Regions from separate parts of the Homo sapiens genome. Here region 2 is linked to region 1. The links come from fine-mapping of genetic effects on gene expression. Tissue or cell type: whole blood. Region 1 holds a variant in brackets; the other region holds the start of a gene. All regions are shown on one strand. Distances are from middle to middle.

Region 1 (10,304 bases):
AGGCCGGAGTGGAGTGCAGTGGAGCGATCTCTGCTCGCTGCAAGCTCCACCTCCTAGGTTCATGCCATTCTCCTGCCTCAGCCTCCTGAGTAGCTGGGACTACAGGCGCCCGCCACCACGCCCGGCTAATTTTTTTTTGTATTTTTAGCAGAGACGGGGTTTCACTGTGTTAGCCAGGATGGTCTCGATCTCCTGACCTCGTGATCCACCCATCTTGGCCTCCCAAAGTGCTGGGATTACAGGCGTGAGCCACTGCACCCAGCCCAAAATGTTTTTAAAAGGCATCACAGGAAATGTAACACAAACAGCTTAATATTTGGTTTTATGGAGGTGATTTAGGGAGCAATAGGAAGTAATTTATTGATAATAAAAAAGCCGTTAATTTTATAATTGTAAAGAATGTTAAGGAATTTGTGGTCTTCCTGAGTAAATTACATCTACTTAATTAAATTCATCTTTTATTCCCACATTTGTGTATTAAAGAGCATAGCAAGCTCCACTTTGGAAATGGTGGCTGCTAAAAAATGCTTCTCCTTCTGTCCTTGAGGGCTATCCTGGCTTTTCAGGAGGCCTGGACATTTATTTTATTTTATTTTTTTTGAGACCATGTCTGTCTCCATCACCCAGGCTGGAGTGGGGTGGTGTGATCTTGGCTCACTGCAGCCTCCACTTCCTGGGTTCAGTTGATCCTCTCACCTCAGGCTCCCAAGTAGCTGGGATTAGGGGTGTGCACCACCACGCCCAGCTAATTTTTGTATTTTTTTGTAGAGACAGGGTTTCGCCATATTGGCCAGGCTTGTCTGGAAGTGATCAGCTCACCTCAGCCTCCCAAGGTGCTGGGATTACAGTTGTGAACCACTGTGCCTGGCCAGGCATGGACTTTTTTTTTTCTTTTTTCTTTTTTTTTTTGAGATGAAAAGTCTTGCTCTGTTGCCCAGGCTGGAGTGCAGTGGCTCGATCTTGGCTCACTGCAAGCTCCGCCTCCCAGGTTCATGCCATTCTCCTGCCTCAGCCTCCGGAGTAGCTGGGGCTACAGGTGCTCGCCACCACGCCCAGCTAATTTTTTATATTTTTAGTAGAGACGGGGTTTCACTGTGTTAGCCAGGATGGTCTCGATCTCCTGACCTTGTGATCCGCCTGCCTTGGCCTCCCAAAGTGCTGGGATTACAGGTGTGAGCCACTGTGCCCAGCCTGGGCGTGGACTTTTAATCAGTTTTCTGGTGACAGTATATGCAACAGGTAGGTTTGGAGCTGAGAGACATTAGCTTCATAGCTGGCCCAGTACTGGAGAAGGAGAGTACCTCCAAGGGAAGAGGAGACCCGTGAATCTCTGATTAGGTCATGCTTTAAGCCAGCCCCAAGTGGACTCCAGACAAGGAGTTGACAAACTGTTTCTGTAAAGACCAGATAGTAAATATTGTAGGCTTTGTGGGTCATATGGTCTCTGTTTCAGCCGTTCGTTGTAAAGTAAAAGCAGCCATAGACAATCAATAATCAAATAGAGGTGGTTGTATTCCAATAAAACTTTATGGATTAACATCGAACTTTGTTCGTATAATTTTCAGAGTCACAAAATGTTATTTTAAAATTTTCCCAACTGTTTAAAAATGTAAAAACCATCCGGTATTAGTCTGTTTTCATGCTGCTAATAAAGACATACCTGAGACTGAACAATTTAAGAAAGAAAAAGGTTTAATGGAGTCATAGTTCACGCGGCTGGGGAGGCCTCACAATCATGGTTGAAGGTGAACGGCACATCTCACAGAGTGGCCAACAAGAGAACTTGTGCAGGGAAACTCCGCTTTATAAAACCATCAGATCTCGTGAGACTTATTCACTGTTATGAGAATAGCATGGGAAACACCTGCCCCTGTGATTCAGTTATCTCCCACCAGGTCCCTCCCCCAACACATGGGAATTATGGGAGCTACAATTCAAGATGACATTTGGGTGGGAACACAGCCAAACCATATCACATCCTTATCTCACAGGCCATATAAAAATAGGAGATGGGCCAGATTTGGCCTGTGGGCTGTAGTTTGCTCGCTGCTACCATAGACTTTTCAATTCTGTTATCATTTCATCTTTTATCCTGTAAAGCCAATTCCAACCCACTTGTAATTAAGAGAAAATCCCACGGTTCCTAATTGAAAGTCCTTTGTTCTATTTCTTGGGTATTTGTGTTTTAGGCCTTATTTTTAGATGCATCATTAAAGATTTTTAAAGTCCTTTCAGGCATCAGGACTGATGATGCTGAATGATGGAGGGTTGTGGATAAGTTTTTTTGTTTTTTTTTTAACCAGGTTAAAGGCTTTCCTGTTATCCTACTATGCTTAATTAAGAGCTGTATTTCTTAATATCATTGGTGCCTGATTAGATTTAACTTTTAGATACAGTCTGTAAGATTTTTGAACCAGAAAAACCTAAATAACTTATGACTGTTAGCAGTCATATTCTAGAAGAAGCAAATGTACTGAATTCTTATGTACCTAGGATTTTAAGGGAGTACATACAAATCTTTCCTCAGTAGCAGGTACTTTATTTTTATAACACACACATTTAAGCTGAGTTAAATATGCAGAACTGGTTGTACTTCTTTGGCAGGAAAAGGGAAGCTTAGGATATCTTGTGACCAACTACCTCTTCCTTCTCAAATAACTGGCAAATAACTTCAGGAAAATCCAGTTATGTTGTGTCATATTGCACCCCCTAGGAAGTACTGGATTCTTAGTCTTGAGTGACTTTTAAATAAAGCTACCTTTTTCTCTTTCTTACATCGCAAGATCTTCAAATGTACCATTCCCGCACAGAGAGTCCAAGGTAAAAGGACTGAAACCAAACTTTGTTTTTGTAAGTATTTTGGTCAGTGCAATGAGTTCAGAGACCAGGAGGTTAATGATTGTGAAGTCTTGTCAACAGCAACACCGTGTATGACCTGTGGTGCTTAGATGTTCAGAAACCCCAAGGTTAAAATGTCCCTGACCACATATCAGGCAAAAGGAATGTAAGGAAAACCAACTTAATCCTTTTGTCAAGAAGTATAAATGATGTATCTTTCCAATCGGGTTGCATTGACTTTTGGGTCCAAATAGCTTGTGTCCACAGGCATCTTCCCTGACACCCTGTTTTGTGGTCTTTGTCTACCACTGTAGGTCGTGGGCTCCCTCAGGACAGACCATACATCACACCCCCAGTGTCCCTCACTATGCAGTGACGTGTGGTCTCTGTACTAGCCATTATGGACGCAGAAATAAGCAACAGGCACGTTTCCTGTCCCCAGAGCCTGAACCTGCTAGCCTGAACCTATTAGCTCAGCAATTGTTTTGACTGAGTCACAGGAACCTTTTCTAGAGTCTCCGAAGGTAATGTTTCCAGTCATATTCCTCATACACTTTTTTCTCACCGTCTATTCCACCTTGCAGTTTGGCCCACTTCCCATATTCTGATTTTTTTTTTTTTTTTTTTTTTTGGTGGGATAGAGTCTCACTTTGTTGCCCAGGCTGGAGTGCAGTGGCACGATCTTGGCTTACTCTAACTTCTGCCTCCCGGGTTCAAGCAATTCTCCTCCTTCAGCCTCCCGAGTAGCTGGGACTACAGGCATGTGCCACCACGTCTGGCTGATTTTAGTATTTTTTATTAGAGATGGGGTTTTGCCATGTTGGCCAGGCTGGTCTCTAACTCCTGATCTCAGGTGATCTACCTGCCTTGGTCTCCCAAAGTGCTCGGATTACAGGCGTGAGCCACTGTGCCCAGCCATATTCTGATTCTTTTTTAACGTTTCATATTAGAAAATGTCACGTGGTTGAAATTTCACTACATCTGCATGAATATTCTGTGTGTGTTAGACCTATTAAAAACTAATGGTATTAAATAGTAGAAATGGTACATATGGATTCTGAACCTGTAAAAATGAACTTAAACGGGGGGAAGTTGATTTAAAAAAATATTAAAACATTAGAAGATAAAAGAAATTATCACAACTCATACCATGCCAAGGGATCTTAGTGAACTTGAAAAACAAAAAGCTGTCATCTGAGACTAATCTTTTTCTAACAGGGTGGCACAATAAGAAACTTAAAACTTAGCATGTTTACATTTCATAATAGAAGGTCGCTTGACCTTGGAGAACCTCATTAGCAGATACTTTACTGCTTTGTCTTTGTTCACCATTGTATGCCCAGTGCTTGGCCTGCATTAGGTCTCAAGTAAGAAGTTTAGAGGATGAAGCTGTGTTTTAAGAAGAAAAGCAAATCCCAGCACTTTGGGAGGCCAAGGCAGGTGGATCACCTGAGGTCAGGAGTTCGAGACCAGCCTGGCCAACGTAGTAAAACCCCATCTCTACTAAAAATACAAAAAAATCAGCTGGGCGTGATGGTGGGTGCCTGTAATCGCAGCTACTCAGGAGGCTGAGGCAGGAGAATCGCTTGAACGTGGGAGGCAGAGATTGCAGTGAGCCAAGATTGCACCACTGCACTCCAGCCTAGGTGACAGAGCGAGACCCTGTCTCAAAAAAAAAAAAAAAAAAAGAAAAGAAAAGAAAAGAAAAAAGAAAAGCAAATCAAGTAAACAAAGTTGTAACACGGACCTACAGATCAGGAGTGTTTTAGTTCTTAAGATTTGGAGCTAGACTCATTTCCACGTAGCAGGTGGGCCATTCTAGTCCTCAAGGGACCAGGCCGCCCTGACTTAGGCTGTGTTGACATCTTGGTGACCACCCCAACTCCAGGAGCCAAACACACTGCCTTGTCTGGCCTGAGTCCCTATCTGAAATCGCCATCTTTAGGGGCCTGTACGCTTCGATCTTGGTTTCTCCACCATCTGTACATGGTCACCCTGGCACCCAGCTCCACCTAAAAGTGAATCATCTTTCTGAATGGACTAGGAGTTAATAAACCACCAGCAGTGATCTCTGAAACTAGGTAGGCCTGTACTGTGTCTCCTAAGTGACTGAATTTCTTGTGCTTGGACGCAGGCATTTCCAGTAACTGGGTCTCTGACCTGTTTTTAACTTGCTACCTAGGTCTCTGCCCTGGCCTAATCTTGAACTGTGTTTTGATCTGGATTGGTCTGTTCTCCTGATTTGAAACCTTTAGTTTTCCCACATACTGTTGGCCAGAATAACTGAGTATGGTCACAAATTGTTCCCGTCTCTGTCTGCACTCCCCTGTGCATTGTGACTTTGCTCCTCTCACCCCCTTACTCTGGGCTTAGCCACGGGCTTGCATCGGCCAGTCGGTTATTAGCACATGTGGCATGCACAGCAGAAGGCCTGGAAAGTGCATGTGCATTGAGATTCGTTCGCTTCCTGCTGGGGACCCTTCTTCCCTCCTCATCTGGTCAGCCCAGCCTAGTCAGCGGGAGGTGTGTGGCCCAGCTACCAGCCAGCACCATCCAGCACAGCACCGACTGCTAAACAGATGAGGGAAGCCATCCTAGACCAGCCCCCAGACAACCCACTACTCATTGCA[AG/G]CCGCATGAGTGAGCCCAGCTGAGCCAGCCAAAATTATTAAAGCCCGTGTCTGTTGCCCAAAGTTCATGGCAGTGGCTGCGGGTTCAGCCGGGTTGTTCAATCTGACTTCCCTGTGAGTTCACAGATCCTGCTATCACTTAGCTGTCATTAGGACAGATCAAATAATTGCTTCATTTGCCTTATTTTTCTTCCCAAATAAAAATAGCCTTGTTTTATCTGATTTGTAAAAGTCATATATATGCTAATTATATATCCATAGTATTGGGGAGAAGCCAAAATATTAATACTTTGACTCTGGGCGGCAGGATTCCGAGTGATCTTGCTGCATATTCTGAGGCCGTGCGCTTCCGGTATGATCCTGCGTGCTTCCGGCATGATCCTGTGTGCTGTGCATCTAGACCAATGCACATTAGCAGTCATGGTTGGGCTATGAAGGTGTAGGTGCTGTCAAGGATTGGACTCAAGAATTGTGTGACTCCTACCTTGACTGGCCATTGTCTCCCTGTGAGGTTTCCAACAAGGTGAACAGGAAACCAAAGTACCCCATTTTTTAACCGGGCCTTGATACTCCAGTGTAAACTTTGGTGAAATTGATTGCCTTGACACTTAAGCAGGCCCTCTCCTCCCCTGTCTGTCTCCCTGCTACCCAGATCCCAGTGTTACCACTGGCCTGGAGGGAGGAGGGGAGGAGACCTTTTTTTTTTGAGACGGAGTCTCGCTCTATCGCCCAGGCTGGAGTGCAGTGGCGTGATCTCGGCTCACTGCAAGCTCCTCTTCCCGGGATCACACCATTCTCCTGCCTCAGCCTCCCGAGTAGCTGGGACTACAGGCGCCCGCCACCACGCCCAGCTAATTTTTTTTTGCATTTTTAGTAGAGATGGGGTTTCACCATGTTAGCCAGGATGGACTTGATCTCCTGATGTCGTGATCCACCCACCTCGGCCTCCCAAAGTGCTGGGATTACAGGTGTGAGCCACCTCGCCCGGCCGGAGGGAGGAGACCTGAGTGAGGAGGGGGAAGCGGGGAGGGCAGAGACCCGGATGGGCCACAGTGGCGTGGATCCAGGCAGGCAGACCCACAGCCCTCCTGTGCGACAGAAGGTAGTTTTCTTTCTTCCTACAGTGCATTTAAGTTCACATGCCTCACTACAAGGTTTGCAGATCCCGAAGTCTAAGGGGGCTGGGTGGCTAATGGGTGTGAATAATGGGGTGGGGTGGAGACCTGGGCAAACTGGAGGTAGTCTTTGGAGATAGGCATGCCAGATTTTTAAAACATTGTGCTGTCAAACGGAAGTCTGGAGCTACTCTTCTTAATGAAAACTTGAGTGTTCTGCCCTCTTCCCAACTTCAGAAACACCTGCCATGATTGTTAGTGTCCACACACTATCACCGTGCCACATGGACTGTGTGGTTGGGCTGTCTTCTGACTCTTTTGCATTGCAGTAACTTAATTAAAGATTTTTGTGCAGCCTCAACTTAACCTGCCCGTCTGGAGTTAGAGTGATCCCTGGGGCTGGAGTCGGGTGGAGTCTGGCTCAGCCCTCTGCCTCTGCATAATCAGGGCCTAGAAACAACAGCAATGTCAACGTCAAAGCAGACAGCACAACACAGCCATCCCATAAGGAAGCAATCCCTGGCCTTTCTATTTCCTCACTGCTCTCTGTTCTTTGCCTCCAGTGTGCTAGAATTTCTGTTGGCTGGAGATGAGGTAGACTCACCTCCTTAAGCTAATCTTACCTGATCTTCCATGTCTGCCCCATTCTTCCCCATCTTTAGCTCTTCAGATCCTCAGACCTTCAGGAATAGGTGGGAGCCAAAGACCCTGCCAGAAATCCCCTTGGGAGTTCACTATAGGCTGGCACTGAGATTTCTGAAAGAAATGTTAGCCATGCCCTTTATTCCTCAGGAAGCTGCATTATACATGGAGTCATACTGTAGATAGAAAGCAGGCAGCACAGTGTGAAAATAAGTGAGCAGTGCAGAGGGGTCCAGTGTGGCTCAGCGGCCCAGACTGTGAGCTTTGCAGTCAGATCTGGCTCAGCCTTCATAGCTGGGTAACTCACTCAATCTGTTTCCTCATCTGGGATATGGAGACATAATAATACCTTCCTCATAATGTGGTTTTGTTACCAAAACACCAAGAGTTTGGTCTAGGTGCTGCTGCTCACAGCAGTGAAAGCCAATGACTGAAATGATGAGTACAGCCAAGGAAGAAGGCTTTAATCGGCTGCTGCAGCCAAGGAGATGGGAGTTCAGTCTCAAATCCATCTCCCTGACCACCTAAAATCAGGGGTTTATATAGCAGGAAAGAAATGTAGCACTGTGTAGGAAAACAGGAACTAGGGGGGGGCAAGGAAGCAATCATGGTGAATGAGGGGCCTGGAGTCTCATTGTATGGATGTGATGATCTGGTAAGTTTCAGTTCTTCAACACTTTTTTTTTTGAGATGCCTGAAGTAATTTCCTGAGGAAAGAACTCAGATAAAACCAATAGAAATTTCAAGCTTTAAGGCAAAAAGTATCAATTTCTATGTTTACTGAAAAAATTGAGTGGGTTTCAGTCTCCCCTTGTTTATAGATTCCTCAACCATGGGGCATCTGGTCATCCATCTTTCTGTCTCCTTCCTGCTGAGGAGAGGCATTGTGGGCAGCTCCATACCATGGAAGACCTCATGACCATCCAGGAATCAAAGGCTAATCTAATACTAAAGTTTTTCTTCTGAAACACAATCTTTTTCTCCAGTCTACCACTTTCACAAAGACATCACAGCAGGACCAATCTACCTGCAAAATAAGCTTCAGTCCCATATACTTGGCCTGATTACCCACACAAAATGGAACAAGAATCACTGTTCTCATAGGCTCTCCTAAATTGGCTTTGCTAGAACCTCTCTCAAGGCCATTTTAGTCAAAGCCCTGGGAAAACAACCAGTTCCTTCAACTGTGTCCCATTACCAAAGAAAACATGTTGTTATTAACTGTATGCAAACAAACACATTGCCATGAATTAAGAATACTCACAAATAGTTTATAAATTCTGGATAAATTAGAGAAATATGCCTCAAATTCTGTTTACAAAAGTATACTCTACTCACTATACTTAAAAGATACTTAAAGGATGACTCAAAAGAAAAAAATTCTTCAGACTCTGAAAAACAAAAAGAATGAGCAATATTTCAAACAAAAAAGCCATAAAAGTTATTTCAGTCCTCCATTAGTTCCGTCCATGCAGACAACTCCTGCTCTGCTTCATGTTGAGTTAGCCATCTTTGTGAACACATCAGTGTTTCCATTAGTGCACTGGAAGTTTTCTCTCACATCCAATGGCACAATCTCCGAAGTTATCAGAAACTTGTATTCAAGAGTCCTTTTCATGAACTCCCCCCAAAGAAACAAGCCCTGGACAGTAGCTGATTATAAGTCACTTTTTGTGAAGAATCAACACAAAACAACAATTGTGGATGACAAAAGTCTTAGGACAACCACAGTTAAAGACACTGTTGACAAGGAAATTTGGTTATTTCTGTGGGATACAACAATTTAACATGAAAATCATAATTATTACTGACAACATATTAAGACATATCAGAATTATAAGAATCTAATATAATCCTGGAACACATTGACAACACATCTATATAAACATAACCAAAGGGAGCTAAACAACATCTCAGATTTGACAATGCTTCCTACATTTTTTTTTGTGTGTGTGTCAGAGTCTCGCTCTGTCACCCAGGCTGGAGTGCAGTGGCATGATCTCGGCTCACTGCAAGCTCTGCTCTCGGGTTCACGCCACTCTCCTGCCTCAGCCTCCCTAGTAGCTGGGACTACAGGCGCCTGCCACCACGCCCGGCTAATTTTTTTTTTCATTTTTTTAGTAGAGATGGGGTTTCACCGTGTTAGCCAGGATAGTCTCGATCTCCTGACCTCACGATCCACCCGCCTCGACCTCCCAAAGTGCTGGGATTAAAGGCATGAGCCACTGCGCCCGGCCACATTTTTTTTTTTTTTTTTTGAGACAGGGTCTCACTCTGTTGCCCAGGCTGGAGTGCACTGATGCGATCTTGGCTCACTACAGTCTCTGCCCCCTGGGCTCAAGCAATCCTCTAACCTCAGCCTCCAGAGTAGCTGAGACTACAGGCATGCGCCATCACACCCAGCTAATTTTTGTATTTTTTGGGTAGAGATGGGGTTTTGCCATGTTGTCCAGGCTGGTCTCTTTACTCCTGGGCTCAAGCAATCTACCCATCTTGTCTTCCCAAAGTGTTGCAATTACAGGCAAGAGCCACCATGCCCGGCTTAAATAATTCTAACATAACACATAAGCCTAATATGCCTAATATGTCTCTCTTGGACTTCAGGGAACCTAATAGCTGAAAAAGTTAGTTTAAGGTCAGAGAATTTAGAACTTGATATTTTGCTGTTGGGAAGTCTGTCAAATATCAAAGGTTTTAAGACACTTGATATCACAAAATAGGATCAGAAGTCACTATAAAACAGTCATTCATTTGGCCAAAATTATAATACAAAAACATTTTCTCTTTGATAGGAGACTGAGTTTCCTAAACATTAAGACCTAGTAAAGACAGCATGAGGCCAGCTAAATCTGTCTTTCTCCTTCCCTCTATTTGTTTTCTTCTGTGGTTTTACTGAAAAGGTAAATAAAAATCTCTTATCTCTTACATGAAAATTTTGTTCAAAAGAGAAAACCAAATTTTACCTTTGTATGGTATATTATTAATGTTAATGCTAATTTTAATAAAACATTATAAATAAATCTAATCAGTTTGACCATAAGGTGAGATTTCCATAAACTTTATAACCTTTTATAATTTT
Region 2 (8,000 bases), 270 kb after region 1:
CGGGAGGCGGAGCTTGCAGTGAGTCGAGATCGCGCCACTGCGCTCCAGCCTGGGTGACAGAGCGAGACTCCATCTCAAAAAGTAAAATAAAGACAGAACTTATAAATAAAGGGGAAATGGAACAGAAATATTTGGAAAACTCTCAGCCTGGCCATGTAAGAATAAAAAACATGTTCACGACAGACTATTGAGGGTGGCCAAGACACTGCTAAAGAGATGATGGATAGAAGGAAACCAGGTTCTTTCTATTCACCAAGACAATTAGACAATGACCCTGAAGGGTCATTACCCGGAGATCTTCAAGGTAAGCTAAGACTTTGAGGGCAAGGTTCCCAGAGAGGTGCCTGTGGGACTTCAGCATACACTGCCCTACATTGCCCTGGGACTCTGCTCCCCAAATTCTGGCACAGCACCCCACAGTTTGACCCACCATTCTGGAAGGTATAAGCTGCAAACCTTGGTGGCATGCATGTAGTGCTGACTCTGCAGACATGCAGAATGTACAAGCTGTGGGGCCATGGTGGCCTCCACCTAGATTTCAAAGGATGACTTGGACCGGCTAGGGGCTCAGGCAGACACTTGTCACAGAGGTGAGGCATGGGAGCCGGGGAGCCCCGATCCCCCAGAACTGTAGGGTCACTAGTGTGCAACTCCAACCTGGGAAAGCTGCAGGCATGAGACTCCAACCTCTGAGAGCTGCTGGGTGGACTGATCCCAGCAAAGCCATAGGGGAGGGGCTGCCTGAGGTCTTGAGGGGTCCAAGCCCCACTCCAGTGTGCCCAGATCGCAGGACAGGGAGTCAGAGGAGATTATTCACCAGTTTTAAGACTTAATGTTTTTTTTCCATTGATATAGTTTGGGTATTTGTCCCCTCCAAATCTCATGTTGAAGTGTAATCTCCAATGTTGGAGGCGAGGCCTAGTGGGAGGTGTTTGAATCATGGGGGTGGATCCCTAATGAATGGCTTAGTGCCATCCCCTTGGTGACCAATGAGTTCACTTGCGATCTGGTTATTTAAAAGTATAGGGCACCTCCCTGCTTTTTCTCTTGCTCGCACTCTCACCATGTGAGACATTTGCTCTCCCTTGTCCTTCCAACGTGATTGGAAACTTGCTGAGGCCCTCACCAGAAGCAGATGCTAGCACCATGTTTCTTGCACTGTCTGCAGAACCATGAGTGAATTAAATTTCTTTTCTTTTCTTTTTTTGAGACCGGTCTCACTGTGTTGCTCAGGCTGGAGCACAGTGGCAAGATCATAGCTCACTGCAGCCTCCATCACCCAGGCTCAAGTGATCCTCCTGCCTCAGCCTCCTGAGTAACAGGGACTACAGGCACACACCATCACACCCAGCTAATTTTTTTTTTTTTTTTTTTTTTTAGTAGAGATGAGGTCTCACTATATTGCCCAGGATGGTCTTAAACTCCTGAGCTCAAGCAATCCTCCTGCCTCAGCCTCCCAAAGTGCTGGGATTACAGGCGTGAGCCACCACACCGGCCTGTCTTTTCTTTATAAATTACCCAGCCTCGGGTATTTATTTGTGGCAATGCAAAAACAGCCTAACACATGCATGTTGGGTTCTAGATGTAGCTGGAACCAGTTACCCCTTTCTTCCTGCCTCTCTCTCCCTTTTGGAATGAAAATATCTCTCCTATGCCTGCCCCACCATTGTCTTTTGGGAGTAGATAGCCTGTTTTGATTTCACAGGTTCACAGCTGGAAAGGAGTCTGCCTCAGGCCAGCTATGCCTGCCTTGGAGTCTTAGCTTTATCTGATTTAGATGGGACTCTGGATTTGAACTTTTCAGTTGGTGCTGGAAGAGTTAAGCCTTTGGGGACTATTGGGATGGAATGAATGTATTTCACATGTGAGAAAGGCATGAATTTGGGGGGCTAAGACAGAATGCTATGGTTTGAATGTGTCCCCTAAAGTCCATGTGTTGGAAACTTAATCCCCAATGAAACAGTGTTGAAAGATGGGAGGGACTTTTAAGAGGTGAGGAGGTATGATGGCTTTGCCCTCATGAATGGATTAATGCTGTGATCTCTAGAGTGGGTTAGTTATCTTGAGAGTGGGTTCCTGAAAAAACAATGAGTTTGAACCCCTTCCTCTCTCTCCACCCCCACCTCTCTCTCTTTTCTTTCCCTATCTTCTCATTCTTTTGCCCCTCCACCTCTGCCATGGGAAGACACAGCAAGAAAACCCTCGCCAGATGCGAGCATCTTGATATCAGACTTCCCAGCCTCTAGAATTCTGAAAAATAAATTTCTTTTCTTTATCAGTTACCCAGTCTATGGTATTCTGTTATAGCAACACAAATGGACTAAGACAACTAATTTTCAGTTTTCAAATGCGCATCCCATCAAGTCCTTAAGTTTTATACAGTCCACATTTAATTTCTGCTGCAACAAGACTGTCTGATGAGTAGCAAAAACTGAAGGACAGTGTTCAATGTTAAGGCCATGCAGACTAATATAGATAACCTGAACAGAAAAAGAGATATTTTACACAGTGATGAGATGGTTTCATTTTTGCACACATGAGCAAATGCAACACATTCTCTGTGACAACTTTGGTTTGAAAGTTCTATCCTGCACCAGTCCTAGAACAATTTCCACTGGTCCAGGATGTCAATGCTCAGACACAGTACTGCATGGAATCAGGTGCAGGATTGAGAACAGGGCATGCTTTAGAAAAAGCAAAAGCTATTTCCAGGACTATCTGCTATGCTGGTTCAGCTTTGCCAAGCAATATTCAAATACTCATGGAGCAGCACATACTATGAGCAAAGTACTTAGTATTGTAGAAATGCAAAAGAAGAAGAAGAGGAAGAAAAGCTTAAACTGTTTATAATCCCCAAAGAAGTTTACAATCTGCTTAGAAAAATTATTTTACTATGCAAACAGCTGAGCCTGGCTGAAGCATCTGTTTGGGAGAGGAATGGAGAGAAGACTGGGAAGTCCACAGTTAGATTGTGTGGGGCAGGACAGAGCACCCAAGATTTACCGCATAGGGCACATCTGGGCAGTGTGAGGATGTCTAACAAAAAAGCCTAGAGATGCTCGGCGCGGTGGCTCACGCCTGTAATCCCAGCACTTTGGGAGGCTGAGGCAGGTGGATCACCTGAGGTCAGGAGCTCCAGACCAGCCTGGCCAACATGGTGAAACCCAGCTCTACTAAAAATACAAAACCTAGCCAGGCATGGTGGTGCGGGCCTGTAATCCCAGCGACTCGGGAAGCTGAGGCAGGAGAATCACTTGAACCCGGGAGGCAGAGGTTGCAATGAGCTGAGATCACACCACCACACTCCAGCCTGGGCAACAGAGCCAGACTTAGTCAAAATAAATAAATAAATAAATAAATAAATAAATAAATAAATAAATTTAAAAAGCCTAGAGATTTCTGTGTCTCTCCACTCTCCAAGTTCAAGGCCATTTCAGGGGCCTCCCCAAAGTTTTTAAAACTTGACTTGGGCAAATTCTTTAAGAACCTTGTTCTCCTCAAATAAAATATTTTGGAAAGCGGATTTTTATGAAGTCTTGGCTCAAATTCCATGACCTTTAACAGACATCTTAATTGTTTCGTGGGAGAATATGACCCAACAAGTGGCATATGGTTTAGGTGGGGACGTTTAATTACCGAACAGTTTTGTAGAATAAGCAAGTCACACATCTTTTGTCCGATGCGTGACAGGTTTGAACCTGTAAAGCCAGGTGCCTAAATAGCTTCCAACGTTTCCACCCCACCAGCCCTTGCACCACTCCCTGTACTGGCCCTGAGCTTTCTAGTCTTGACTGAAAAGCGGGGAGGCAATGTGGTCTCTCCTGGTGCACTGTCCCGAGGAAGGCCTGCTCCGCTTCCCCGGAGGAGTCTTCAAAGGATGGAGGTAATTAATAAAAACAACCCCTGTACCTCCTCTAAGTGGTCATTAATTAATAAAGAACCTCCAGGCTCCTATAGGAGAGGTCTGTGCACCCCGCGGGCTATGAGAAGGCTGGATCACCCAGAAAGACTGAGGATGTGTCCTGGCAAAAACACAGCCTGCCCCTCACACTGCTCCCCACGGGTGCACTAGGGAGGAAGAGTTCCCTCGAGGGCCTGAGCAGGCGCCCCACACCTGCACCCGTGCAGAGGGGGCTGGGCCCGCCCTCTGCGCTCCCGAGGGAGAGCCCTACCCCCTGCATCCCCGGTACCCCGTTCCCTCCAAGGGCCGGAAAGAGGGCCCCGCGCACTGTGCACTTCTTAGGGGTCCCCCACCCTGCGCCCCCGCCACGGGAAAAAGGTCCCCGCTCTGCGCATCCGGCCCCGGAGGGACAGCCCCGGTCCTGCACTCCTTGCTCCTCAGGGGGACGGTCCGCGCCCAGCGGCTAGTGCGCCCCGGGTAGGTGGGGGCGGGGGGCTCGTCGAGTGACAGCGCTCGCCTCCCGCAGCCCGCCCGAGCCGCGTCAGGGCAGAGGCGGGGTGGGGCGCGGTTAAAAGGCGCAGCAGGTGGGAGCCGGGGCCTTCACCCGAAACCCGACGAGAGCCCGACAGCCGGCGGCGCCCGAGCCCGACCTGCCTGCCCAGCCGGAGCGAAGGGCGCCGCCCCGCGCAGAGCCCGCGCCAGGGCCGCCGGCCGCAGAGCAGGTAAGCGGGCGCGGACCGGCTGGGTCTTGCGGGGGGCGAGCGGGCGGTGCCACCTCGGCCCCCCAGCGGAGGAATTTCCTCCAAGAAAACAAAACAGGTGAGGTCGGCGGCTGGTCCCCACCTCGCCCCTGTCGCTCCTGTCTGGCACCGGATCAGAGCCGGCAGAGCGCGGCCGGGATGGGTGTCTGGCCGCACGTGGGGCGACCGGGCCCCCGATCTGCCTCTATCCGCACCCTCCTGTCCACGCGCCCCGGCCCCGGCCCGATGGCAGTGGGCGCCGCCCGCGCTGGACCCTCTCTCTGTACGCAGAGGAACGAGGATGGACTGGTTTGACTTTTACCCCAGCGTGGTCCCCTTTGACTTGTACAACAGGTTTTATGAAGGTTTCATATCGTGTGTCTAAGAGGCCAGAGTGAGGGCCGGTGCCCCTTTCCCCCGTTTCATTTGCTGCGTGTTGGATTTTCTAAGCTTTTGTGGGTCACCGGGGTGTCCCCTTGGATTTGGGGAGAAGAAAGCCAGGTCTAGGATGCGGGTTTCAGTTCAGACAAACCCTCAACTTGGGCCGATGCATAAGTCCCCGGAGAACCGCAGGGTATGGGCTGCGTGATGGGCTTCCGAGAAACTTGTGAAATGCTGATGACAATAGCGTGGACGACAGTAATTAAAAGTAATTGGCGACACATCTTAGTTAAAACGTGCAGGCACCAGAAGGCACTTCCTGTCGGTGAAGAAGACCTGTCTCCGGTGTCACGGGCATCCTGTGTTTTGCAAACGGGGCTGACCTCCCTTCCTGGGGAGCAGGAAGGGTCAGGGTGAGTGTGGCCTGCCCGCAGCTCTGCACTCCCGGAGGGGTTAGGGACCTGCAACCAGGCGGGGACACTGGCCCAGCGACCTCAGTGTCCCCTGGGTGGGCGTGCACTCTGTTTAGTGTCTGATTGAACGTAACCGTGCCGGGTTGTTCTTTTCCCTCAAGTAGACTTTATGCCATACAGCTATTTTCTTGCCCCAGTTCTAGCAGAATCTAACCAGTGTTCTAGAAGAAAATGTCCTGCCCCCATGCAGTCTCCTTAGAATTGCAGGGTGCTGCTCAGAACTGCTCCTGTGGAGAGCTTTGTCTGTTGTTTGGATCCAGCAGCGTCTTTGGGGGTGTTGCTTGAAGCTTGCCAAGGAGGAGAGGGGGGTTCTGAAGAGAGAACACCAGGGCTCTAGCCTGTCACATAACTGGGGGTGTGGAGAGCGCCTCATTGCCACTGCAGTGACTAAAGCTGGGAAGACGCTGGTCAGTTCACCTGCCCCACTGGTTGTTTTTTAAACAAATTCTGATACAGGTAATGATGACTTTATGCTTTTTTTCTTATGTCTTCTCTTCTGAATTCTGAGTGTTAGGAAGGAAAAGAAGTACAGAAGATCTGGCTAAACAATTTCTGTATGGCGAAAGAAAAATTCTAACTTGTACGCCCTCTTCATGCATCTTTAATTCAATTTGAATATTCCAGGTGCTGTGAGCAGTTTGCATATATTAGTTTAAATGTTAAATGGGATAAAATTGTGGGAAAGTGATTTCTGACCCAAGCTTCTTGGTCTGTGAGGGCATAACCTTCTAATGGCCACCTGCCATAGGTTATGATTTCTGTTTTAGTTGCTTAGTGCATGAGCATAGACCTGGAACCCCAGAGGGCCTGCTCCATTTTTATTCCCAGGGTCATTTAAATCTAGTTGAGCTTAAATGTTTGGAAAGGACACAGGTTTGCTTGAATGAACAAACATATATTGCTAACAAGACCCAGAGAAGGAAAGTTTAACTTAATGGAAATTAATTTTTAACTCTTTGAATTCTTAAATGATGTAAGAAACATACGTAATTGCATGAGTTTTCCATTTTTACATCTAGACTCCACAGACAGAAACGTTTCATTTTTATTGAGTTAATTTTGAAATATATGAATCCCTGACCCATTGTTATCACTAGCTGTTACTCTATCAGGACAGTTGCTGAAGTTTTTTGTCACTAAATTTAAAAATCAACTATCAGGTTGTCCCTTGGATGACCTGAGATTTCTAGAGACAAAAGAAATCTATTCTTCCTGATTGAAGAAAGAGTCTGAGATTTTTTTTAAACCACTGATTTGGGGATCAGGGTGTAGCCAGTGTCTCAAACTCTCCCCTGTCCCTTTTTGTTTTGCTCAAGGAGTGGGCTTGAGGCCTCAGATTGGGTGTTACTGTTATTTTGATAGGGAAAGGATCCTACTAAAGAGCACCTTTGATTATTTTGTGTGTTCAAAGCATAGAGCATCAGGAAGCTGGCAATTTCTGAACTTACCTCATAACAGTTCTGGGAATGAAGAAAAACTACCCACAAAGTTTATTCAGGGGACATATTGCGGGGGGCGGGGGGGGGGGGAGTTAAAGGAATATGGCAACAGCTACTATTTTTCCCTCAACAGGCGACATCCTCACTGACCGAGCAAAGATTGACATTCGTATCATCACTGTGCACCATTGGCTTCTAGGCACTCCAGTGGGGTAGGAGAAGGAGGTCTGAAACCCTCGCAGAGGGATCTTGCCCTCATTCTTTGGGTCTGAAACACTGGCAGTCGTTGGAAACAGGACTCAGGTTTGCTTGTTTTGCTTTGATATTGTTTTCCTTTTATCTATGCAGACTCCCCGACTATCCAAAGCTAACTTCGAAATTGGGAGGCACATGTTCCTGTTCTCAGATCTATCAACTACTCCCTAGATGGCCAGGCGCGATGGCTCATGCCTGTAATCCCAACACTTTGGGAGGCCGAGGCTGAGGTCAGGAGTTCAAGACCAGCCTGACCAAGGTGGCAAAACCCTGTCACTACTAAAAAAAAAAAAAAAAAAAAAAAAAAAAAAATTAACCAGGTATGGTGGCATATGCCTGTAGTCCCAGCTATTCAGGAGGCTGAAGCACAAGAATCACTAGAACCGGGGAGGCAGATGTTGCAGTGAGCTGAGATTGCACCATTGCACTCCACCCTGGGCAACAGGGCAAGACTCTGTCTAAAAAAAAAAAAAAAAATTTTTTTTTTTTTTTTTTTTTTTTTTTGCTAAATGACATTGAAAGGGGAACAGAGCTATCTAGAAAAATATGCTGAGGGGTTACACTCTAACTTTGGGGGCTTTAGTTTTGGTTCTGTCATTAGTGAAATTATAATGGCATAGATAAATAAGCTAGTTGTGATTAATTTCCTAAGAAGTTTTAAAACAATCAAGAAATTTCATTAGTGCAGTCAAATGCCAATAGATCTAAATTATTTGAATTGTAAAAGGAAAGAACAACCTATCTTCACAATGCTGTGTGGATCCTCAAAAGTAAAGTCCATGGTTTACTTATTTTTAGAGCTAGATATTTC

The links. PIP is the estimated chance that this variant, and not a neighbour inherited with it, causes the effect.
Region 2: it holds the start of GJB6, and the variant in region 1 is fine-mapped to the expression of GJB6 in whole blood (INTERVAL, PIP 0.97).

Annotation. Positions count from the first base shown.
Region 1 is chr13:20,498,525-20,508,828 of GRCh38, reverse strand. The region is part of intron 2 of CRYL1 (crystallin lambda 1); the gene reads left to right. Among named protein-coding and RNA genes, the nearest start is that of CRYL1, 22 kb to the left of the region's middle. RefSeq lists enhancers at 1,665-1,959, 5,875-6,871. The variant AG/G (reference allele first, on the strand shown) is at 5,469.
Region 2 is chr13:20,228,817-20,236,816 of GRCh38, reverse strand. It overlaps GJB6 (gap junction protein beta 6), which reads left to right and starts at 4,498. Exons shown (of 5, transcript NM_001110219.3): 1 at 4,498-4,623; 2 at 5,312-5,435; 3 at 6,010-6,119; 4 at 7,068-7,237.